Homo sapiens: one gene and its partners. The protein of the gene in region 4 purifies or fractionates together with the protein of the main gene of each other region. This does not show direct contact. Each region holds a gene or a part of one and is shown on either strand. Other genes may lie near its edges. The genes, in order: TSC22D2, RPE, KIF2C, DNM3, RAPH1, ALMS1 and FNBP1.

Region 1 (3,500 bases), on a different chromosome or scaffold from region 4:
AAAGTATACATCTGATCATCATTTTCATGATGATGAAAATGCCTGAGATCTAGGAGGGCAGCATAGTCTCATATTTGTATTCCAGTGCTCACTACTCACAGAGCATCATGAAAGCTGAATGACTGATAAGCTGTTTTAAATGTTTTCTTGGGCAATCAACCTACTTAATGAGTATTTACAAACTTCATTTATTGCCACACAATAGTCAAGTGGCAGGAAAGGGGTAAAAAGAAGAAAGTTTAAGTTTGCAGTTCTCTCATGAAGCACACTTGAATGTATGGTCTCATATACATAAGGCTAGAAGGAATCTTAAAATTTGACAAAGTCTCAAAAAAGAAAAACAGACAAGTGAAATGACTTGACCAAAGAAACCAGCTAAATGATAGAAGAGCCAGGACTGGAACACAATTCCCTATACTTCTTACAACATCATGACTCGTCTAGACTAAAACATCATCTCCTTTTTTCTGACTACATCCATACCATACAATTACGCTTTCATATTAAAATGGAAGATTCTTGGTATGATTTATAACATGTAAAGGGGTGATCTGGGAGAGCAGTTTGGACACTGAAATATTAACATTTCTGTGATACACGTTTGCCACATATATTATGTTACAGACTGTTCAAATTACTTGCACACATCATTTAATTCCTTAAAACTCTCCCAGGTAGGTACAATCCCCATTTTTCATAAGAGGAAACAAGGCATCTACACCAACTAGCTCAAAGTCAAATGTAGCAGTTAGATTTTAGCCCGGGTATGTCTGACTCTACTGTCTCTGTAATGGTCATTCACATATGTTAACACATAATTAAACACGCTATTGGTTTTATTTGATCAAAACAGCTCCTCCCTCCTTTGTTTTGTCTTCAAAGACTAGGTAGACGGTATGCCAAGCAAAGATTTGTTTTGCTTTAACATATAAAACCACTTGATAAAAACTAAATACTAACTCTACTTTAGAAACTAGAGGCTTTACACTTACCTTTGGGAATCCTTTATTCAGATTAAATTATATACTTGTGTAATAAGATGAACAGCCTAAAACTAACATTTAAAACTATGCCATCATTATTTACAATAATTGACACATTAATCACAAACTCCATCTTCTACAAAGCAATATTCTTTAGACAAATTTTAGGAAAGGCTTATGGGAAAAGAAGCTTTAAGTAATTTAACATTTAGACTTTACTTATTTGTCCTGCCTACCCTAATAATAGGTATATGTCCCAGGCAAACACTAATAAAATTAACTCAGTTACCTGCAGAACTTTCACTAACATCACAAATAAATGTACTACTTAAAAGGATGGAAGCACTTTTTCTTTTTAAACAAAAATTAGCTTGGGTACAAAGGAATCAAACTAAATACTAAATACTAATTATTTAAGTCTGATTTGAGGCTTTAAATTTGAGATAAGCAATCCAGATGAAATTTAATTCACCTGATTTAAGAGCAGAAATCATGCAATACTTTCATACAGGAAACAATCCATCAATATACCTTTAATATTATTAAACCAAATCTGAAGAGTATACCTCAAAGTATACTTCCTAAAGTCATGGAATAATGTATAGGAATGGTGCAAACTGGCTACTGTTCCTACCTTTTTATGAGGGACACCCAGTTTTTGCCCTAAGCAATGCCAGATTAAGAATATAACAAATATCGAGTAATTTGATATGTTCAAGAATTGCTGTGGGAAAGACATTATACCAATGATTCAGGTATACATATTCTCTGTGGACTCAATACAATACCATCGAAAACAGTAGCCTCAAATCACAAGCCCACTGGTTTAGTATAAAGAAAAACCATACACTTAAATAATTTATTCTAATTTAGGAGTTTTGCTACACATACTCCTTAAATATGATTAATATTTCTTACCAAAAATCTGCTTTTCCAATTTAAGGAATTACTTACGGAATATCATTCAGGCTATGTTTAACCAGACAGACCTGCTTTTGTAAGGCCTCTCCTTCCTCATACTTTAAGTATTTAACGAGTAATGCAATTAAGAAATAAACAGAATCTTCAGAAAAGGAAATACACACTGGACTAAAACAATTCTTCAAAGAAAGAATTAGAACACCATTCCTCAGTATTCACAAGTGTTCCTATTTCTTTTGAGACTATATTTCATGCCACTCCACTGTACTTTCTTCCATTTTGATTATCTGCTATCATTCTACACTTCCCCTTCCCCAACTCCTGCCATTTTAGGAAAGGAAGGTCAGATTCCTTTTATACTTTCCTAACTACCATTCCTTTATTAGGAAACAGATTTATTTGGGTTTCTCTACTACTTGATTGGTGGGGCTGCTATTTGTTCATAACTGCTTCTGATCTTTTCTGGTGCAGAGAAAGATAGACTCCCATTCCTAATTAGGAAGTACCAGATTCATAGATCCAGTACCATATTTCACTATTTCCAAATTAGTGCTATCAGAATTATTTTTTTTCTTTTTACAGACAGGTCCTTGCTGTGTGGCCCAGGCTTCAGTGCAATATTATAATATAGCTCACTGTAGCCTCCAGCTCCTGGGCTCAAGCAATCCTCCTCCTACAGCCTCCCCAAGTAGCTAAGACTATAGGTGTTGGCCTCCAGACCTGGCTAATTTTTAAATGTTTTGTAGAGACAAAGCCTCGCTATGTTGCCCAGGCTGGTCTCCAACTCCTGGCATCAAGCAATCCTCTGACCTTGGTCTCTCAAAGTGCCAGGATTACAAGGCATGAGCTACCGCTCCTGGCCCAGGATTCTTAAATAACAAATGAATTGGCATTATATTTATTCTCAGGAAGTAGAGGACATATATACCCCTACCACCAGTCCTATATAAAATGACTTCTCATAAAGGTGATTTAGTTCAGGGGTTGTGATCTCCTAAAAAGAAAAAACAAGTGTTACTAAAATAGTCAGCTGGAAATCTGTATTATTCACACACATATAAGCCATCATGTTTTCTAAAAAAATTTACCAATGTTTGGCCTATATGATTTAGTGCACATAAAATTTTATACAGTATGTGTCACTGTGAATATAAAAGGCCACACTCCTACAGATATAGCTCATGGTTTAGGAATTTCGGGTAGTTTGGAAAATCGTAAGCCTTTTTGGAAATCTGTCATTTCTTTTATTTCAAGCCACGTTTATGAATAAAGTATGTTTTAGTAATCCATGTGGTATCCATCAGTAATCCCTGATGAATACATCAGTATCAGTTTTTATGCTAAACAATAATGACACATATATACGAATTTACATTTTTACTACTAACTCCTCAGTAAGAACACTCTTAAACGTGTAGATAGGCATAGGATAGTATCTAGTATGTGATTCAGACATCAACTGTAAACCTACAAGAGCAAAATTACCTTCACAATTTAACAGATAAATGTCAGCTTCCAAGAAACAGAGATTCAAGTAAGAAATTTCCATCTTTAGAGACTTCAATTCAGTGAGACTTTCATACAACAGAGGTCGAA
Region 2 (4,270 bases), on a different chromosome or scaffold from region 4:
ATATCCAGTCATGCTAGTGCTCCACCTTCCACAGTATTCCCCAGACTGGTTTCTGACTTTCTAAATGAAGAAATTCAGTTGTAATCAGGGGAGAAATTGGAGGTCTTAGTGGGGAGGAGACTAGAAAACAATAAGCACATCCAAAGTGTAATGTTGGATGAGATTTTTAAAAGGGGCCAGGAAAAAAAAAACACGAAGGCAGTCCTGGGAGGGAAGGGACATTGTGGCTGGCCACATTTCAAAAAGGAGTCCACAGCCCACTTTCATAGCCCTAGCCTAGTAGACACCACAGCACATCACGTAGGGGCACTGGCACCAACTCTGCCAGGCTCTGCTGAATCTGGTGAGACATCAGGGAAGAAGCTGAATCTCCCTACACTGGTTTCCTCCTTTGCAAAAGGGGAATAGAAACAGCTCTTAACTCAGAAAGTAGAGAAGATTAAAAGGGAAATAATTTTAAAATTGTGTATGCAGAATTCAGTTTTTCCAAACCAAAGTATCTCCTGGCAAAGGGGAAGAGGAATCAATAAAAAACAAATACTTCATTTTTTATTTTTTTGTTCCCAAAACTCTGATCCATGGTAAATACTTTGCCTTACTGAGCTCAGTCTGCCATAGAGCTGCAAGGGGACAAAAGTGACTTCTGAGAGACTTCTCCTATTATGATTAAGCTATTCATTCATTCGGCCAACAATAACTAAGCACCTTATGGTGCTTTTCCAGCAAAGAATATATAGGTGAGCAAAAAGAAGATAAACTTGGCTTTCAGGAAGCTTATAGGGTAGCAGGAGAGACATGAAATAAGTTAACAAAAATAAGTATACAGTTAACAGAAATAAATACACAAATTATTAGTTGCTTTTTTGAGGCCAAACAATGTCTTAGTCATTCCCTGTAAGCCTAGGAACCACAGAAAGCATTTCATTTGAGACAACACAAGCTGTTGCATTGCTTCCAACCCTGGCTCCACCATTTCCTAGTTATGAGACCACTGGCAGATGACTTAACCTCTCTGTGCCCAATTCCTCGCTGTCAAATGCTGGTGGTAATAACACCACCAATTTCAAACGGTTGTTTGAGTTAATTCACAAAAAAACTCCAGAACAGAAACAGTCAAGTGCTCATAAACATTGCTACTATGGTTATCATTAATAATCCTGACTGGTGAACCGAAACAATTACTTTCCCCAACCATTAACTTACTCAAACATAGTTTAATTAAAACCAAATTGCTCAAATAGACTCACAAATATACACATAGCTGTTCCATCCTGTGACCCTCTAGGTATTTTCTCAGGCACAAAAATGTAGCTACTTACCTTTGAGGTAGACACTCAGGGTATTATTACCTGTGACAGTTTAGGGCTTTCAAGCAAAGATGTCAAAAATAAAGTATATAAGTATAATTACATATAATGGCCAATTAAAAGCCAACCTTTGTGAGAGGTAATATTTACTAAACTTTTTACACATTTGGCCTATTATTTTTAGTACTCTATGGTCAAAGTTTTGTCATTATCAGTTGGGTGGACTCCTAAGGTAACTGGGTAAAATGCCAAAGAGAAACAATACATTTAACCACATAGAGCAATGGAAGATAAAACTCTTCAAAGCCAGATTAACATTAAAAAGAAAAGGAAATCATCACCTTTAGAAAATAACACCAATTTGCAAACTGAATGAGGGAACACAGGGTTTTTACCTATTTAAAATAAATTTATTTTTCCATCCCCACTCAAGATAATGGTATTTATGATTTTTATAGTCAGTTAACAGTGGGGCTCAGAGAACTACTTGGCAAACCTAGGAAGAGCCAAGTTGCAAGTCTGTCACAATCTTCTGTAATCTTGAGGGAGTCTTACTGCTTTCTCTGGGGTTGTTTCCTCATTCTGTAACCAACTTCAGAAACTAATATCCTGACTCCAAACAATATTATGTGCTGTAACTACGGTGCTTAAAAATTACTTACAAAAAACTGACCTCCCTGAAGAGCAGGGTGCCTGAAGAGAAAATAGACAGGAAAATCAGAATTGTAATAATGATGTAATTAACAATTATAGAGAACTTAATATACGCCAGGCACTGTAAACTTCTCATGTACTCGCTCATTTCATCTTCCAAGATGCCTAAGCGGTAGGTTCTGTTAGTAGTTCCATTTTTCAAATTATGAAACTGAAGCTCAATGAGGTTAGTGGCTTGTCCAAGGTAACCCAGCAAGTGGCAGAACTCGGGAACCTAACCGCAGGTGCCAACTTAAATCGTTAGAGAAGTCTGTTTCCCCAGCTTTGCCACTAACTAGCTATATGAGCTTGGGCAAGTCATGCTTCTCCCCTTGGGCCTCAGTTTCTCTAGCTGAAAGTGAAGAAATGTCCTAAAGATTTAGGTCGCTTCCGGGTCCTAAGTGATGGAAGACCACACGTTACGTGGGGGGAGGGGAGGAACTGAGGTTTGGGACCCGGCCGCAACCCAGGATACCGCGTCGGTTCTGCTCCTGCTAGAGCCTCCAGGGCTCCTACCCCACACCCCTTCTAGCATCGCGTTCAGAGTGAGGCGCTCGGTGGTACAGGGACGCGGTACATCCAACAAGCAGTCAATAAAGGTGCACTGATCCGCCCCGCCGCGCGGCAAGCCCGACCGGAGCCCGGAGGAGTTACCCGTCCATTACGTCCAGGTGCAGATAATCGGCCCCAGAGTCTAGCATCCGGAGGCACTCGGCCCCTAAATTGGCCAGGTCGCTGTTGAGGATGGACGGGCCAATCTTGCAGCCCGACGCCATACCGCTGGCTCCCAAAAGCAAGTTACCCACGAGTCCCCGGCAAGGCTAGAGCGTCACCCCGATTGGGCGCGCAGTTTTGGCCCCGCCCCTTCTCCGTACAGGCTTCCGGATTCTACCGGAAGCAGCCACTCTGCGGTGAGGAAGTCCCGCCTCCTCCTGGGGTGGGGCGCTGTCAGCCGTCCGCCTGGGGCGGGGCGGGGCACACGGGCCTCGTACACCTGATTTTGACCTTCCTTCTTGTGCTGTTTGGATCTTAACGTCCTCGCAGTACTCAAGGCGTTTCTTAACCTTTTTTCACTTTGCTTCTCCTGCAGTTCCCTCTCCTCGGCTCTTGACTTAACATCACTTTTTGTTTCTCCACCCTTTGCATATGCCTTTCTTTCCTCTCCAGCGCCTATGCTGGCCCTTTAAAACAACAATTAAAAACCTTTCTTCCTCGTATTTCTCCTAGAGCTCTTCTTTTGAGCTGGAGGAACCCTGGCTCTGCCAGATACTAGCTGGGTGACCTGGCAAATCACTTCTTAACTTCGGTTTTCTCATCTGTAAAGACAGTGCCCAGCTTTAGGGTTGTATTAAATGAGTGAAGCCAGGTAATGCGCCCAGCAGGATGCCTGGTGCTCAGTACAAAATGGTAGTTATTATTATATTACCCTCTTTTTCTGCCTTTGCAGTTCCTCCTTACCTTTTTTGTTTTTCCCTCTGTTGAGGCTCAGAAAATGATAGCCCAAAGTGAAGGCCTCAGACGCAACAGTGTTTCTCTGACTTCCTGCCCTGCTCTCTTCTCAGTCTCATTCTAGGAGGCAGGTCATAGAAACTGGAGCCCATCTTCCCTAAGAAGAGTCATTGAAACCGGAACCCCCTTTCCCTGAAGCCAGACACAAAACCCAAAAGCATTACTCTAACTTTCCTCCACCTTTCTGTGTAAAAACTGGCCATAAATTATTTGACCCATCTCAACTGTAGGTTATAAAACTCCTCTTCTAGAGAAGGTTCTATCCCATATCCAGGAGGAGGGAATGCTGCACAGAGAGGCCAGGAATCTAAACTAGACTGGCCAAGGCCAGGTCAGTCTATTAGCATTAGATCGCCTATTTTGTCCAATCGTATTTCTACATGGCTGTCTATACTTTGTTGAACCTAAGTATAAAAATGGGTAATCACCCCTGTACCTTTGGGTCTTCATTCTGAAGGCTCCTGTGTCAGGTAAAACTATAATCAAATAAGTTTTTATGCCTTTTCTCCTGTTAATCTTCTTTCTGTCAGTGATTTTCAGCAAACCTTTGGAGGGTGAAGGGAAAGTTTTCCCTTGGCCCCTACACCTCTCCAATGCTCATTCACAAATTGTGATAGGTTTGTGTGCTGTTCACACACAGTTCAGAAATGGATGAGTATCCTGATGCTAAATGTGCCTAGGGTCAGGAAAAGAGACAGAAGTAAAACCACTTGGCGGGGATAAATGGACTTAGCAAGAGCAATCCTTAAGGGGTCAGAATA
Region 3 (3,500 bases), about 130 Mb from region 4:
CAAGGTAGGCCAGGTTTAGGACAGGATGTAAACTATCTGTGCCTCACTAGAAGCAGAACAGCAGACAGCTCAGTGTGTCTACCTGAGTTCACAGGGTTTGCAGAAGAGCTGCCTCGGATGGAATGGACTTGCTCTTCCATCTCCTCGCTGACCATCCTCAATGGTATTTCAGCCACTGCAGGGCAGGAAGGCCTAGTGGGGGCAGCTGTAGGGGAACAAGAGTCACTGGAGAAGCAGGCAAGTATACCACAGGCATCTCACCTGAGCCCATGGCCCTGGTTATGGGCCGGGAGAGCGACCTGCCTGCTCGGTAAGGCTTACAGTATGTGCAGAGCTTGTGCTTTTCCCTTCACCTCAGCCCACACTCTCACCCTTTCTGCAAGGGCTGGCTCCTGGGGTCAAAATATCTTAAAGGGTATGTGAACAGTTCAGTATGGGCTTTGACATGAAGGGAAAAGCCTCTGAGAGCGTGAACTCTTTAGACTTCACCCAAGCATGGGTTCTCAGGCCAGGCCAGGTCTGGTCTTAGGGAGAAAAGCCAGGCCTTTCTGACTTCTCTCAAGCCTCAGGAACCCAGGTGGTTAACAGGAGCAAAGACTGAAAATCTAGGGTGACAGGGAACTGGGGCAATAACTAACCAGATTGATTCAATACAGAAAGGTCCAATCCACAACACCTCATTACTTCCCATACGTGGTCATGACCCATTCATTTACCTTCATCGTATTAGAGCTGAATTTGATATATGTAAAGTATAATGGTTGTGTGTCTTACACAATTTGCATCTAATTTATATAATCTATTAAAGACTGACAAATAATTCACATTACAAATTTTTATTTATATTTACTAATTTTCCACACCTCATCTGACTCACTTAAAAAATCTTAAAATTCAATTTATAGCCGGGCACGGTGGCTCACGCCTGTAATCCCAGCACTTTGGGAGGCCGAGGCGGGCGGATCACGAAGTCAGGAGATCGAGACCATCCTGGCTAACAGAGTGAAACCCCGTCTCTACTAAAAATACAAAAAATTAGCCGGGCGCGGTGGCAGGCGGCTGTAGTCCCAGCTACTTGCAGGCTGAGGGAGAATGGCATGAACCCGGGAGGCAGAGCTTGCAGTGAGCCGAGATCGCAGCACTGCACTCCAGCCTGGGCGACAGAGCGAGACTCTGTCTCAAAAAAAAAAAAAAAAAAAAAAATTCAATTTAATATAGGCCGGGCGCAGTGGCTCAAGCCTGTAATCCCAGGACCTTGGGAGGCCGAGGTGGGTGGATCACGAGGTCAGGAGTTTGAGATCAGCCTGGCCAATATGGTGAAACCCTGTCTCTACTAAAAATACAAAAATTAGCCAGGTGTGGTGGTGTGCACCTGTAGTCCTAGCTACTCGGGAGGCTGAGCCAAGAGAATGGCTTGAACAGGGGAGGCAGAGGTTGCAGTGAGCTGAGATCACACCACAGCACTCCAGCCTGGGCGACACAGCGAGACTCCATCTCAAAAAAAAAAAAAAAAAAGGTATAAAAAGAGGGCCGGGTGCAGTAGCTCACGCCTGTAATCCCAGAACTTTTGAGAGGCCAAGGCGGGCAGATCACATGAGGTCAGGAGTTCGAGACCAGCCTGACCAACATGGAGAAACCCCATCTCTACTAAAAAGACAAAATTAGCCTGGCATGGTAGCACATGCCTGTAATCTCACCTACTCGGGAGGCTGAGGCAGAAGAATCAATTGAACCCGGGAGGCAGAGATTGAGGTTAGCCAAGATAGCGTCATTGCCCTCCAGCCTGGGCAACAAGAGCAAAATTCCGTCTCAAAAAAAAAAAAAAAAAAGTACAAAAAGAGGGCTGGGCGAGGTGGCTCACGCCTGTAATCCCAGAACTTTGGGAAGCCGAGGTGGGCGGATCACTTGAGGCCAGGAGTTCAAGACCAGCCTGGCCAACATGGCGATACCCCACCCCTACTAAAAATACAAAAATTAGCCGGGCGTGGTGGCACATGCCTGTAATCCCAGCTACCCAGGAGGCTGAGGTGGGAGAACTGGTTGAACCTAGGAGGCGGAAGTTGCAGTAAGCCAAGACCACGCCATTGCACTCCAGCCTGGGTGACAAGAGTGAGACTCTGTCTCAATAAATAAATAAATAAATAAATAATAAAATACAGAAAGAAAAAAAGCTAATTAATGCTATTAGAAGTCAGGATTATGGGTACCCTTGGGGGAATTAGGAGCTGCAAATATGCCCAACAGGGACTTTTGAAGTTCTGTTAATGCTCTGATCATGTTAGTTACATGAGTGTGTTCTGTTTATGAAAATTCACTGAACTATATACTCAATGCTCTGTGTACTTAGACCTTAGACTCCTCAACTATCTCAGAGGGCTTCTGCCTAGTCTTTCACCTCTTCCAAAAGACTGATTCCATGGCCACAGGAAAACATGCCCCCATGTGACAAACAGGGCTTGAACTCAGGCGATTTGAAGTACTGGTAATGCTCTGATCATGTTAGTTACATAAGTGTGTTCAGTTTACAAAAATTCACAGAACTAAATACTCAATGCTATGTGTTCATGTCTGTGTTTATGTGTGTGTAATGTTTCAATTAAGTTTTTTTAAAAAAGAGATGATTTCCAAATAAGAAAGCCGTGTTGGTAGGGCAGGAGCAGACCAGTTCTGAAGCTGGGGGAATGGATGAATCTCAGGATATTCTAGCACAGGGACCAAGCAATGTGCTCCAGGGCCTCAAACATGGTGGTTGGGGGCACATTCGTTACTCACGAGGAACTGAAAACTGCTTGCGGGAGTTTGCAGCTGCAGGCAGCTCCACCTCCATGTCATTCTCCTGAGCCGTGATGCGAAGCTCTGAGACAGTGGACATGCGAGTGGAGCGGCTTCGAAGACCTGGAGAACCGAGAGCAGTAGCCAGTCAGTGCTGCACGATCTCGAGGGTGGTCAGGGGCAAACCTCCAAGTTTCTGTACAAGGTGAAATAGGTCCCAGCTACCAGGAAAGGGGCTCGCCAACTTCCCATATTCCTTAGAAAGGAAAAATTAGAAAGACCAAGTACCAGTAACCCCAAAACCTCTTTGTCCACATTGTGCAAATCTAGGAGCTCCTGAGGGCAAGGATATCTCCCACAAAGAGCGGCTGTCTTGAGTAAGTACAGGAACCTATAGCTATCCTGAAAACATTTCTGGAGAGAGAGAGACCTAATCTAAGTCCTTGAGAAAAAGTATTATGAATCTTTTTTTTTTTTTTTTTTTTGAGGAGTTTCGCTCTTGTTGCCCAGGCTGGTGTGCAGTGGCGCGATCTCGGCTCACTGCAACCTCCACCTCCTGGGTTCAAGCAATTCTCCTGCCTCAGCCTCCCAAGTAGCTGGAACTACAGGTGTGCACCACCAGACCCAGCTAATTTTTGTATTTTTTTTTTAGTACAGACGGGGTTTCACCATGTTGGCCAGCATGGTCTCAATCTCTTGACCTTGTGATCCACCCGCCTCGGCCTCCC
Region 4 (3,500 bases):
TTTTAATACATGTATTGTGTGAATGAGAGGCATCACCGTGTTCCGTACTGTGACCCTCCAATTCTAGAAACAAAGAGATTTTAAGGAAATGGTCTCCTTGGTAACTGAACTGTAGGAAACTGTAGGAAAACCCTAGAAATGTCTCTTCTATTTGTGAAGGGTTTAAAATGGTCTCAGTCATAGAAAAGAAGGTTTAAGATCCAAACATATTACGGGTTGCTAGAGAAGGGTTAAAGTAAGAGAGGAAAACATGTGGAACATTTTTAATGACCTCACATTCCTTTACACTGAGCAGAGCGACATGGTGCAGTAATGCCTGTTTATCTAGCCTAGAGAGTTTGAGCTGGAATGAGGTTTCATGTGTGAGAACTTTTACAAACCATACAGAGATGTATAGGTTATAAGGTGTTATAATTAAAAACATAAATATTATTTCAGATCTCAAATTTAAGTATAATCACTTTGTTATGTTAGGTGAAGTATTTTCTAAATGCTATCATCTAAAAGGGATTCACTTGACCCCTGATTGTCATGCAGAATTCTTGATTTAAATATTTGTACCAGATTTAAATGTCTGTATACCACTGGCATACAGACTTCCCAGAAAGTCCCTGAAGTGTCTGGAAACTCCCGGAAGTCCCCCTACCTTCATTCCAAACTCCAATTTTAGTGTCACAAAGCTAGGTTAGCAGAAGGAGAGAAGAGTATCTCTAAAATTTTGCTTAAATGCAAAATAAAAAATGTTAACCTCTATGCCCTATTTAACTATGTCGCTTGATACCTGTACTGTTGCAACAGCTGTCTATTGTTCTCCTGTCTCGATGTACCTAATGCCAATGTAGCCTATAGACAGTAAAAATCACAGCATTTTTTGGAAGGGGCACTAACTGTGTGCTGGGCATCATGCTAGACAACTTGTATTCATTCCTTCCTTTAATCCTCACAATACTTGAGGTAGCTCTACCCTCATTTCACAGATGAGGAACCTGAGACTCAAACAGTTTACATTATTTGCCCAAGAACAGTAAGTGTTAGAACTAGAACTTAAATCCACAGCCTATGCTCTGAATCCACTGTATTGCACAGTAGGCAAGTTCCAGTGTGTCATAATTGCTGTGGAAGATTCAAGGCACATCTTTGGTCAGAATGCTGAAACAGGCCCTTATTTTGCTTCATGGTTTGACAGTTGATTCTTAATTCAGCTCTGCTTTAAATCTATTCTTGGAAGAATCTTCTTTTAAATTGTATTTAATAGATTCTAAGTGATATTCCAGTAATATGTAAAGTTTCTAAAGAGCTTAACCCAACCAATGGTCAATGCCAGGAAAATTGTCTGGTTTTGAGTTTTGAATTGCACCATGCATCCAACTGCATATACATACCCAACAGTGGGAGATTTGTGCAAATATCCATGATTCCCTGCATACCTGCAAGTACATTTAGAAGTGAATGCGTCTGTAAGGAAGGGAATGAAATATTCCTAAAGCCAAATTTGCTGCCTTCCCTCTAAATCTGACTTTCTTTTCTGATGTTTGAGTTTCTATTCTCCTACTCATCCAAATGTCAATGCTTGAGATGTCTTTGGTTGTTCCTTTCTTCCTTGCCCTTCACATCCCAACAGCACCAAGTTCAGTTCATTATTCCCTTATAATGTCATTGTATGTATCCATTTTTTATACTACTGCGTTATTAAATGAAACATTTACCATCTTATGAACGATCTACAATAGCCTTCTAACAGATTTCTTTATTTTCACTACCACCCTTGCAAAGTCTTTTTCAATGTTAGCCAGATTAATTTTCCTAAAACTCTCTTTTATTGTTTCACTTACTTGCTTAAACGCTTTCGCTGGCCCCTCATTGCCAAGCAAATAAAGTTCAAACACTTTTCCTTGGCATTCAAGGCCTTCGCATCTGCCTCAGGATTCCTGGCCAAACTTACCTTCCACAACTATCGTGCATAAACCTCTACTCCACAGAGGGTTTCCTAAATACATCTTGTGTATTAGATTACTTTCACCTTTGAATCACTCTTGGTTTACAAAATATGTACAGAAAACACTTTATTTCACCACAATAAACCTTTGATTTAGCTGAATTTTTTGATTAGTAGAATTATTTACATGTTTTGATGCCTTTAAAACATAATGAAGCTATGTGTTTTAGGTTCTTGTCATCTCTGAATTACAAATTTAACCATATCCTAGAAATTTGGAGCATCTGACAGCTGTTCTGTTATCTGCCTGATTTTTTAACAATTAAATATATACTTGCGTTTGGCCTTTCTTAAAGATATTCATGAGTCTAGATAAGAGTTAGCTTTCTCATGTAACAGAGAAACTGAAAAATTCAAACGGCTTATTTTTACTAGGCTTAAGTTAATTGCTGCACTACTGTAAAATAATGATACTTAAACAAAAATTTACTTTTTTAAGCACTCAATCACAGTGAGATAATGGGGTAAGGGAATGGGCACCGGACTTCAAGTCAGAAGGTTATGGATTCAACTGAATGCTGTGTGACCTAGCACAAGATACTTAAATTCTTGGAACTTGTTTCTGTATCTATAAAACTGGAATACTAATACATGTTTCTTCAGTGTGTGATAAGAATTGTCATATAACTTATGAAGCCACTTGGTATATACCATACTTCATCGATTCTCACATTCACTTCTTTTTATTTAATATTTCTGAAATGAAGATGCATCTTATACTCAATGGCATCTTGACATCCTGTCAAAGTTTGATTGATGGTATTTTTTTTTTGTCTGAATAGTCAGCACATATGATAGTAGTGTTTCTTAAAATCACTGGTGTCTTAGAGTTGATGAGATACAGTAGCTGGCGTTCCCACTCTCAGTGTTGTGCACCATATTCATCCTCTCCATTTTCATCCTGCAACAAAATGCCCCTCCCCCTGAGACTCCCACATAGTGTTCATACTTTAGTTTGTTTTTATATATTAGCTAACTATGCAACCTCATGTCAGTCCCCATCACTGTTAACTAACTTCTATTGTAAACTTCTGGAAAACAGAGTGCATCTCTTTCACTTGTTTATAAATCAACCTGCATAGTTATATAAGATTCTGTATTTAATAAATATTCACTTACTGGTGCTAATTTCACTTTTGAGACGACACTGAAACTTGGCATCTCAATAATTTTCCAGTGATTTTGGTAAAAGCTAGGGAAAGGACTGCGAATGCCAAGGAATGGAAAACGTGTGATTACATAGGTTTCTTCACATCACTGTTTTCTGTTGAAAATACTGCTTCTTACCTCATAGTACCTTCCCTCTTCTATAAGCCAAACAGCTCCAGACAATATTGTGAAATGCTCACAAAGCCAGCAGGCCCTGTTCTGGTGATGGCTGGGTTTGGCCTTCTTCTACTCATCTCTATCATCCTTCAGTGTGGACAGCCAAAAGACAGAGGGAAACTGTTACTGTCACCAGTACTGGGGATAGAGACAAAACAAAAGTAAACAGACGCTTGGT
Region 5 (3,500 bases), on a different chromosome or scaffold from region 4:
ATGATATTGGCTTGGTGGCAGTGAAGGCGGTGAGAAGTGATCACATTCTAGACATATTCTGAAGATAAGGCCAACAGAATTTGCTGCTGGATTGAAAGGGAGGTAGAAAGAAAATAAGTAGATAAAGACTCCAAGGAGTTTGCTTGATGAACTAGACGGATGGAATATCCATTATTTGAGATAGAGAAGACAGTGGGAGAAATAAGTTTGAAGAGAAAGAGCAGGACTTTAGGTTTAGACCAGTTAAATTTGAGCAATCTATTTATGATGGTTAATTTTAGGTATCAACTTCATTGGATTAAGGAATACCTAGAGAACTGGTAAAGCATCTGGGTATGTCTGTGAGAGTGTTTCCAGAGGAGATGGTGTGTGAACCAGGACTGAGTGGGGAAGATCCATCCTCATTGTGGGTAGGCACTATCCAATTGACTGAGGGCCCCAGATAGAACAAAAAAGGCAGAGAAAAGGTGATTTCCTCCCTATCCTTCCTAGAGGTGGGACACTCTGCTCCTACTCTTGGATATCAGAACTCCAGGCTCTCCAGTCTTTGTACTGCAGGCCTTATACCAGCAGCCTCCCTTGGGTACCCAGGCCTTCAGCCTAGGACTGATAATTATACCATGGGCTTTCCTGGTTCCGAGGCTTTTTGACTTGGACTAAGTCACACTACCACCATCCTAGGGTCTCCAGCTTGCAGACAGCCTGTCACATGACTTCTCAGCCTTCATAATGGTGTGGGCTAATTTCCATAATAAATCCCCACTCATATCCTATTGGTTCTATCTCTCTGGAGAAATATAATACACAATTAGACATCCAAATAGAGATATTGATTAGAGATGGAATATATGCACCTGGAGTTCAGGAGAGAGGGACTGGCCAAAGATACCTATATTTCCTTAAATCTAAGAAGATTTGATGCTGGTACTTTCTTGATCTTTATTAGAAACTTTCAACAGAAGGACTTCATACAACGTACTATAACTGCCACCTTGCTGATCGTGACTAACAGGTGCCACACGATTTAAAATGTGGTTTCTCAACCTTGGCTCTATTTTGGGCCAGATAATTATCCTTCATGTGGGCTGTCCTGTGCACTGTAGGATGTTTAGCAGCACCTCTGGCCTCTACCCACTAGATGCCAGTAGTAGCACACGCCCTTGATGGACAACCAAAAATGTTGCATATACCCAGCAGGACAAAGTAGCCCAAGTTGTGAAGCATTGTTTTACAGGGATTAAAATGGGGGTGGGAAGATGTGGAAAAAAAGCATATGGCTGAGTGGTAACCAATTTAGCAAATCCAAGAGAAGCTGAATGCTGGGCCAGCACTGGAGAAAAGCAGAGGAGCACTCAATTTATATCGTGTAACCTCAGAAGTCCTCAGAAGCAAGAGTAGACAGGTGATGGTGCGACTAAAAGCAGGAAGAATGGTTGAAAACACATTTAAGAAAGCAGCTAATTCTCAGATTCCCTCTTTTACTCACTCACCCACCAGCAGTGGTCTCAGGTACAGATTAACATTCGCTGACAAGACCCAACAGACCATAGCTTGAAGCCAGATTCACTCAGTTCTGAATAAATAAAAAGAGACATGCCATCTTCTGAGGGAGTCCATACAGCTCACCACAGGCCCTTTTTGGGCCCATAAATAGCTCATTGTAAGGGAAAGAGACCACATGGTAAGTGCAGAAAACACCCTGGCTTAGGGAAACTTCATGCTCCATGGGAACCAGCAGTACCTTTTAACAGCCAATGAGGTTAAGTTCCAGGGCCCCTTAAAGAACACGTTCATGCTCATTTATAAGAGTTACACTGCTGGCCAGGTGCAGTGGCTCCCACAGTGTAATCCCAGCACTTTGGGAGGCCGAGGCAGGTGGATCACTTGAGGTCAGGAGTTCGAGACCAGCCTGGCCAACATGGCGAAACCCTGTCTCCACTAAAAAAAAGAAATACAAAAATTAGCCAGGCGTGGTGGCATGTGCTTGTAATCCCTGCTACTCGGGAGGCTGAGGCATGAGAACCATGTGAACCTGGGAGGCGGAGGTTGCAGTGAGCTGAGATTGCGCCACTGCATTACAGCCTGGACAACAGAGTGAGACTCTGTCTCAAAAAAAAAAAAAAAAAAAAGAGTTACACTGCACACCACGAAGTCAAGGTCTATGTCTTTTCATAGGCTAATTTATTCATTCATGGACAGTCTTCCTGGTCCATATACACTCACCAACAGGGGTCAGTTTCACAATAAACAATATTACCTGGAGATATTCTATATTTAATTCTTAATCCAGTATGTGTCCAGGAAAAGAATGCCAGGAGAAGGAAAACCCAAGGTCATTTTCCACGAAGAAAAGGACTCAGGCCTACTGTTAACCCTCTCTACCTAGAGCAGTGGTGATTCTCAATTGGGGGTGGATTTTGTCCTACAAGCAACATGTAACAATGTCTACGGACGTTTTTAGTTGTCACAACTGAAGAAGGTAAATGTGTACTACTGACATCTAGTGTGTACAGGCCAGGGATGCTGCTAAACATCCTACAGTGCATGGGACAGCCACTCACAAAACTATCTAGCCCAAATGTCAATAGTGCTGATAGCTGAGAAACCCTGACCTAGAAGGATTTGATGAAAGTTCATAGACTGGAACAATGGGGACCATCCTCATGTTCCAACCCTTCTTTCCCAAATGGGCTACTAAAACACTGGCAGCCAGCATAGAAGACTGGAAGAATCTTCTCCAGAGAAGCTCACCAGCCTAGGAAAAAAAACCTAAGGATAATCCTGAAGACTACAAAAAAAAAAAAAAGAAAGAAAAGAAATAAATAGAATTTTAAGAAGATGCAATTAATGGAACGCTAATTTGGCTTGAACCAGAGAGATTTAATCAACTGGGAGAAAGTCTGAAGTTGAAACAGTGATCACCATATAGAAAATTAAATATTTTTAAACATATATTCATTCCAGTAAAAGTAAAATGATATTCCAGAAAGGGGATGTAGTCACAAGAGTATATGGAGGTTAGCAGTAAATTTCAAGTATATAGTCATTTTAATATAAACACTGAATATGAGCTCAATCAAAATATATTTGGAGAATGGAAAAACAGGAAGGGAGAAGTGAGAAGAAGCTGTATATAGACAGCTATACCCTCCATCTTCTGGAGTAGAGTGAGAAGTCAATAGGTAATACATACCACTAAAAAGAAAATCAAGAAATGGCAATGTGTATGTAGACTTAATGATAAAGAGGTAAAGTCCCTAAGAATCAGCTAAATGAGCAAAAATTGCTTACCTCTGGAAGCAGAATATGATGTGTATGTGAGTAGAGGATAGTTTTCCGTAACATATCTCATAGAACTATTTAACGCCATGCATGAAAAACTAAAATATTTTTAAAACTGTATTTGCACTTAAAGACAATTTGATACATGAGTTCAGGATATATTAAGCTTGCCTCAGTTTACTTTATTTGAATCAGAACAGACTAGACCTAGGAAAAAA
Region 6 (3,500 bases), on a different chromosome or scaffold from region 4:
GGTAAGAAATATTAGGCTTCTCTGTATGTGAATAGAAAGAGGAAGTTACAGTAGATAACCCAGTCTTCTGGTCAGCTGGTTGAGGAACAGCTGAAACTTTCAGAGCTTCTTGAGTTAGCTCACTGTCTGGCAGGGCCTGTTGGTAGAAGACAATGGGCTTCTCTCTATATGAGTATAAACTAGAGGATACTGATGGTGTCTCAGTCTTCTGGGCATCTGGTCCAGGAACAGGTGGAACTTTCAGAGCTTCTTCAGGTAAATGACTGTCTGATAGGGTCTGCTGGTAGAAAATGACAGGCTTCCCCCTATTTGAGTAGCTAGTAGAATGTACTGGTAATGTCTCAGTCTTCTGGTCAGCTGGTCCAGGAGCAGCTGAAACTTTCACAACCTCTTTATTTAGAGGACTGTCTAGCAGAGCCTGCCGGTAGAAAGTAATGGGCTTCTCTCCAAGTGCACTGGAACCTAAAGGTCCTGCTGGTATGTCAGTCTTTTTTTCAGTAGGTCCAGAAACAATGGAAACTTTCAGAGCCTCTTCAGGTAGATGACCATCTGGAAAGGCCTGTTTGTAGTTAACAATCGGCTTCTCTCCAAATGAGTAGGAAGTAGAGGTTATGGTTGGTATGCCAGTTGTCTGGTCAGCTGGTCCAGGAGCAGAAGAAACTCTGAGAGCCTCTTCAGGTATTTGACTACCTAGCAATGCCAGTTGGTAGAAACTGCCAGACTTTGCTCTATGTTGTGAGTAGGAAGGAGAGGTTATAGTTGGTGCGCCAGTTGTCTGGCCAACTGGTCCAGGAGCAACTGAAACTTTCAGAGACTCTTCAGGTAGATGACCCTCTGGAAAGGCCTGTTTGTAGATAACAATGGGCTTCTCTCCAAATGAGCTGGAAGGGGAGGTTACAGTTGGTGTGCCAATCGTCTGGTCAACTGGTCCAGGAGCAACTGAAACTTCCAAAGCCTCTTCAGGTAGATGACTATGTGGCAAGACCTGTTGGTAGAAACTACCAGGCTTCTCTGTGTGTGAGTAGAAAGTAGAGGGTAAAGTTGGTATCCCAGTCTTCCGGTCACCTGGTCCAGGAACCGCTGAAACGTTCTTAGCCTCTTCAGTTAGATGACTACCTGGCAACGACTGTTGGTAGAAAATACTCGGCTTCTCTGTATGTTGTGAGTAAGAAGTAGAGGTTACAGTTGGTGTGCCAGTTGTCTGGTCAACTGGTTCAGAGGCAACTGAAATTTTCAGAGCCTCTTCAGTTGGATGACTATGTGGCAAGACCTGTTGGTAGAAAACACCAGGCTTCTCTGTGTGTGAGTAGAAAGTAGAGGGTAAAATTGGTATCACAGTCTTCTGGTCAGCTGGTCCAGGAACCGCTGAAACATTCTTAGCCTCTTCAGTTAGATGACTACTTGGCAACGACTGTTGGTAGAAAATGCTGGGCTTCTCTCTATATTGTGAGTAGGAAGTAGAGGTTACAGCTGGTGTGCCAGTTGTCTGGTCAACTGGTTCAGAGGCAACTGAAATTTTCAGAGCCTCTTCAGTTGGATGATTATCTGGCAAGACCTGTTGGTAGAAAATACCAGGCTTCTCTGTGTGTGAGTAAGAAGCAGAGGTTGGAGTTGGTGTCCCAGTCTTCTGGTCAGCTGGTCCAAGAACAGGTGAAACTTTCTGTGCCTCTTCAGGTATGTGACTACCTGGCAAGGTCTGTTGATAGAAAATACCAGGTTTCTCTCTTTGTGAGTAGAAGGTAGAAAGTACTCTTGGTATCCAAGTCTTCTGGTTACCTGGTCCAGTAACAGCTGAAACTTTCTGAGCCTCTTCAGGTATATGAGTACCTGGCAAGGCCTGCTGGTGGAAAATGCTGGGCTTTTCTCTATGTTGTGAGTAGGAAGTTGAGGTTACAGTTGGTGTGCCAGTCTTCTGGTCTGCTAGTCCAGGAGCTACTGAAATTTTCAGAGCCTCTTTAGGCAGATGACTCTCTGGCAAGGTCTGTTGGTAGAAAATACCAGGCTTCTCTCTTTGTGAGTAGAAAGTAGACGGTACTGCTGGTGTGTCAGTCATCTGGTCAGCTGGTCCAGGGAAGGCTGAAACTTTCAGACTCTCTTCAGGTAGATGACTGTCTGATAACACCTGTGGGTACAAAACACTAGGCTTCTCCCTCTGTGGGTAAGAACTAGACTGTACTGCTGGTATCTCAGTCTTCTGGTCAGCTGGTCCAGGGCCAGTTGAAACTTTCAGAGCCTTTTCAGTTGCATAACTATCTGGCCACTCCTGTTGATAGAAAATACTGGGCTTCTCTCTATGTGAGAAGGAACCTGAAGGTACTGTTGGTGTTGGGACAGTCTTCTGGTCAGTCAGTCCAGGAATAGCAGACATTTTCAGAGATTCTCTAGGTAGATCACTGTCTGGCAACTCTTGCTGGTAGAAAACACTAGATTTCTCGCTATGTGAGTGAGAATTAGAGGACACTGTTGGTGTCCCAGTCTTCTGGGCAGCCAATACAGAAACAGCTGAAACCTTCAGAGCTTCTTCAGGGAAAAGAAAGTCTGGCAGGGTCTGCTGGGAAAAAATAATGGGCTTCTCTCTGTGTGAGTAGAAACTAGATGGTGCTGAGGGTATCCCAGTCTTCTGATCACCTGGTCCAGGAACAATTGATACTTTCAGAGCCTCTTCAGTTAGATGACTATTGGGTAAGGTCTGCTGATAGAAAGCACTGGGCTTTTCTCCAAGTGAAGAGGACGCAGAGGAAGTAGAGGTTACAGCTGGTGTCCCAGTCTTTCCGTCAGCTGGTCCAGAAACAGCTGAAACTTTCAGAGCCTCTTCGGGTAGATGGCTGTCCAGCAAGGCCTGTTGGTAGAAAACAAGGAGCTTCTCTCTGTGTGAGTATGCACTAGAGGGTACTGTTGGTAGGCCAGTCTTCTGGTCAGCTGGTCCAGCAACAGCTGAAACTTTCAGACCCTCTTCAGGTAGATGACTGTCTGCTAAGTCCTGTGGGTACAAAATACTAGGCTTTTCTCTTTGTGAGTAAGAACTAGACTGTACTGCTGGTATCTCAGTCTTCTGGTCAGCTGGTCCAGGAGTGGCTGAAACTTTAGTAAGAGTCTCTTCAGTTTGATGACTGTCTGCGAACTCTTGTTGGTAAAAAATACCAGGCTTCTCTCTATGTGAGTGGGGAGTAGAGAGTACTGTTGCTGTCCCAGTCTTCTGGTCAGCTGGTCCAGACACAGCTGAGACTTTCAGAGCCTGATCAGTTAGATGACCATCTGGCAAGGTCTGTCGATAGAAAAAGAGGAGGTCCTCTACATGTGAGTGGGATGTAGAGGATACTGTAGGTATTCCCGTCTTCTGCTCCACTGGGCCAGGAGCAGCTGAAACTTCCAAAGGCTCTTCGGTTAAGTTACTCTCTGGTAACTCTTGTTGGTAAAAAGTACCAGGCTTCTCTCTATGTGAGTAGGAAGTAGAGGTTAGAGTTGACATGCCAGTTGTCTGGTCAGCTAGTCCAGGAGCA
Region 7 (3,500 bases), on a different chromosome or scaffold from region 4:
GAGGAAATATTGTTTTGTCCCCTATTTTTAAAAAGCATTGATAATAAACTTGTTATCAATTATGAATTTACATTCTTTACTTTTTTTTTTTTTGGAGAAAGGGTCTCACTCTGTTGCCCTGGCTGGGCTCCAGCAATCCTCTCATCCCAGCCTCCGCTAGGACTACAGGCACATGCCACCATGCCTGGCTATTTTTTCATGGGTTTTTTTTTTTTCTTTTTTGAGACAGAGTCTTGCTCTGTCGTCCAGGCTGGAGTGCAATAGCGTGATCTTGGCTCACTGCAACCTCCACTTCCCAGGTCCAAGCGATTCTCCTGCCTCAGTTTCCCGAGTAGCTGGGATTACAGGCACCCGCCTGTAATTAGCCGGACATTAACCATGCCCGGCTAATTTTTGTATTTTTAGTACAGACGGGGTTTCACCATGTTGGTCAGGCTGGTCTCGAACTCCTGACCTCAGGTGATCCGCCCTCCTCGGCCTCCCAAAGTGCTGGGATTACGGGCATGAGCCACTGTGCCAGGCCTCTTTTTTACACAGAGTTGTTTTTGTGGAAATACGATTGTCAGGTTAACAATGACTACTGTTATTCTTTTACTAGTAACCAGCTGTTGATTCCAAGTCTAAGAAGGACATCTCTCCTCTAGTTAATTAGTTGTAGTTTAGAATCTTTTCCCAGGCCAATGTGTCAGTTGACACTCAAGAAAGGATGGCATCCACCTCTGGCTTTGGGGCACTACCAGGTACTATTTGGAAAGAAGTAACCCAACCGTCAGTTGACTGGAGAGTCCAGGAGAAGGGAAAAGTAAAACTTATGTTTGTACAAGAAAGCATTCCACTACAACTGTATTGCAACTCCCACAGGGTAGGATTTAAAAAAAAAAAAAAGGAGAAAACCTTACTGGATATGTTAACGCTGCTGGGATTACAGGCGTGGGCCACTGGGCCCAGTCTAAAGATCTGTTTACTCATTATATTCATTATAAAAGATATTTTGGGAAGGCTTAGACTAGACTGGCCATTGAGAATGATTTGGGAATCTACACATTGCTTTATGCCAATCTTTCTCTGTAAACGAAACTGGTATCTACATTGGATGGCTGCATCAATTCCATTATCTCTATGATGTAAGCGCACATCAATCTTAATGAGGACAGCGGACTTCAATCTTAATAACAACCACTTACGAGTCAATATAGTAGTTTCTCCCTGAATGTGGATGTCACAGAATCTCAGACTCTGTAATCAGACTCCCCGGATCTAAATCCCGGCTCTGTATCTTCCCACCTTCACCTTTTTATGCCTCAATTTCCTTACAGTAAAATAAGGAAATATGAGTACTACCTGGGCTTCATAGGGTGGCTGGAAAAAAGTAAATGAGCACACAGAACAGAGCTTTGCACACAATAAGTGCTCAGTAAGTGTCAGCTGCTTTTATTGTTTCATCCTTTAAAGAGAAATTCTGCATCAGGCCCCTTCCAATCAACAGATATTTTATCAACATCTTATATAATCTCACTAAAATAGCGAATGAAACCACTGTGACTTATGACTCTTCTCCTTTCGACCCTGAGGCATAGCTCAGGCAAGTATCTTCATTACACTCACATTGCTTCAGTAGTTATTAAGGCAATATTTTCTGACTTACACAGTGACTTCCAATTCCTCATCTCATAGGTTGCTAGTTTTATGTTTTTATTATTTATTATTTTTTTTTAGAGATGGGGTTTGACTATGTTGTACTGGCTGGTCTTGAACTCCTGAGCTCAAGTAATCTTCCTGCCTCGGCCTTCCAAAGTGCCAGGATTACAGGCATGAGACACTGCGCTTGTCCTATTAATTTTTATATATTTTTTTAAGAGATGGGGGTCTCACTATGGTGTCCAAGCTGGTTTTGAACTCCTGAGCTCAAGCAATCCTCCTGCCTTGGCCTCCTAAAGTGCTAGGATTACAGATGTGAACTATCACGCCCAGTCTCAGGTCGCTAGTTTTAGAAATGAAATCTAAGTGGTTTTTTTTGGTAAAATTAAGGTAGAAAATGCATGACTTGGATGCTTTAAAGAGGAAGAGGGGTAAAGTCCTTCCAAAATGTACTAGAAACGAAAAGAAAAAGGCCGGGCGCAGTGGCTCACACCTGTAATCCCAGCACTTTGTAAGGCCGAGGCGGGCGGATCACAAGGTCAAGAGATCGAGACCATCCTGGCCAACATGATGAAATGCTGTCTCTACTAAAAATATAAAAAGTAGCTGGGCGTGGTGGCATATGCCTGTAATCACAGCTAATCAGGAGGCCGAGGCAGGAGAATCGCTTAAACCCGGGAGGTGGAGGTTGCAGGGAGCCGAGATCACGCCACTGCACTCCAGCCTGGTGACAGAGCGAGACTCTGTCTGGAAAAAAAAAAAAAAGAAAGAAACAAATAGAAAGAACTCTGGGCTGTCTGGTTTTCTCCTTTCTTCCAACCACCATGCTTCCTTCTTTCTTTCTTCCTCTTTCTGGCTTTTCTTTCTAGCTATAATGGTTTTTGTTTTTTTTTTTTTAACTTTTTTATATGTTATGGGAAAACACAATGGATTCATTCACAAACAAAATTAGTTATGCAGAACCAAACATGCAACCAAAGCACGCCAGAGAGACAGGATTCCGGAGCAGAACTTACCCCACGCTTTAGGCTCCTGAAGCAGTGGATTTTGGGTTTGGAGGTCATGAACTCGTTGAAGCGATGGGAGAGGGGTTCCTTTTGCTGCTTGGGAGACTGGGGGCCGTTGGGAACAGCAGAGGGTGAGGCAGAGGCAGGAGGGGGAGGGGGAGGCTGATGGGGGGATGTTAAAAGGGACATAAGCTACATGTAAGAGATGGAGCCGTGACAGAGTAAAAATCAGAAACAAGAAGACACAAAACAAAAATAAGCATCAAATAATATTTGAAATCCAACGCAAGTAAAACACAAACAATTAAATTTTAGGCCATGGTCCAAAAGAAAACATGTAGGAGGTGGTTAAATGAAGAATATGATGAGAGTTGGGAGGTTTAGTAAGTAATGCGACAGAAGAGCAAGAAATATCTGACAAGAAGCTCGTGCAGACTTTCCCATGCAAACTATAGCTCTAGTTAGTTACTCTAAACCAGCTTAAGCCAGAGGGTAAATATTTCTACATTACCTAAACTAACATAGCTTGATGGGAGAAAATGAAAGACCTTCAATGCTAAGGTTGTGGAAACAGCAGTCTGTTTAAATTAATAAATAGTAAGTCATTCTAAAGTTAAAGCAGTAATGCTGCCTTGATCATATTCTACGTCCCCAGGTTAATGCTGTCATGCACCTATGTATCGCACTATGAAAAGAAAATGAAAAATGTTCATGGGTACACATGTTAACATGAATTCAAAACCAAGTTATTAACATGGTAACGATTTCCAGTAGATGTGCGGATAAAGTGTTACAGGAATGTCCCACTACATCCTCTCTCCCAGCCAAGGTAACCAGCAGTCTAGGAGAGGAAGG

The links.
Region 1: the proteins of DNM3 (region 4) and TSC22D2 purify together in Homo sapiens (affinity purification with mass spectrometry; one large-scale study listed by BioGRID and IntAct). This does not show direct contact.
Region 2: the proteins of DNM3 (region 4) and RPE fractionate together in Homo sapiens (co-fractionation; one large-scale study listed by BioGRID). This does not show direct contact.
Region 3: the proteins of DNM3 (region 4) and KIF2C purify together in Homo sapiens (affinity purification with mass spectrometry; 3 studies listed by BioGRID and IntAct, with this or other methods). This does not show direct contact.
Region 5: the proteins of DNM3 (region 4) and RAPH1 purify together in Homo sapiens (affinity purification with mass spectrometry; 3 studies listed by BioGRID and IntAct, with this or other methods). This does not show direct contact.
Region 6: the proteins of DNM3 (region 4) and ALMS1 purify together in Homo sapiens (affinity purification with mass spectrometry; 3 studies listed by BioGRID and IntAct, with this or other methods). This does not show direct contact.
Region 7: the proteins of DNM3 (region 4) and FNBP1 purify together in Homo sapiens (pull-down; one study listed by IntAct). This does not show direct contact.

Annotation. Positions count from the first base shown.
Region 1 is NC_000003.12:150,414,798-150,418,297, reverse strand, and holds part of TSC22D2 (TSC22 domain family protein 2), read right to left. Parts: intron 1-3,500. UniProt on the Homo sapiens protein: Reduces the level of nuclear PKM isoform M2 which results in repression of cyclin CCND1 transcription and reduced cell growth.
Region 2 is NC_000002.12:210,001,168-210,005,437, reverse strand, and holds the start of RPE (ribulose-phosphate 3-epimerase), read right to left. Parts: upstream 2,801-4,270; 5' UTR 2,777-2,800; coding exon 2,655-2,776; intron 2,001-2,654; exon of another isoform or gene 1,970-2,000; intron 1-1,969. UniProt on the Homo sapiens protein: Catalyzes the reversible epimerization of D-ribulose 5-phosphate to D-xylulose 5-phosphate.
Region 3 is NC_000001.11:44,749,837-44,753,336, reverse strand, and holds part of KIF2C (kinesin-like protein KIF2C), read right to left. Parts: intron 2,896-3,500; coding exon 2,773-2,895; intron 206-2,772; coding exon 83-205; intron 1-82. UniProt on the Homo sapiens protein: In complex with KIF18B, constitutes the major microtubule plus-end depolymerizing activity in mitotic cells. Regulates the turnover of microtubules at the kinetochore and functions in chromosome segregation during mitosis.
Region 4 is NC_000001.11:172,383,498-172,386,997, forward strand, and holds part of DNM3 (dynamin-3), read left to right. Parts: intron 1-3,500. UniProt on the Homo sapiens protein: Microtubule-associated force-producing protein involved in producing microtubule bundles and able to bind and hydrolyze GTP. Most probably involved in vesicular trafficking processes, in particular endocytosis.
Region 5 is NC_000002.12:203,483,302-203,486,801, forward strand, and holds part of RAPH1 (ras-associated and pleckstrin homology domains-containing protein 1), read right to left. Parts: intron 1-3,500. UniProt on the Homo sapiens protein: Mediator of localized membrane signals. Implicated in the regulation of lamellipodial dynamics. Negatively regulates cell adhesion.
Region 6 is NC_000002.12:73,448,336-73,451,835, reverse strand, and holds part of ALMS1 (centrosome-associated protein ALMS1), read right to left. Parts: coding exon 1-3,500. UniProt on the Homo sapiens protein: Involved in PCM1-dependent intracellular transport. Required, directly or indirectly, for the localization of NCAPD2 to the proximal ends of centrioles.
Region 7 is NC_000009.12:129,921,190-129,924,689, forward strand, and holds part of FNBP1 (formin-binding protein 1), read right to left. Parts: intron 2,838-3,500; coding exon 2,655-2,837; intron 1-2,654. UniProt on the Homo sapiens protein: May act as a link between RND2 signaling and regulation of the actin cytoskeleton. Required to coordinate membrane tubulation with reorganization of the actin cytoskeleton during the late stage of clathrin-mediated endocytosis.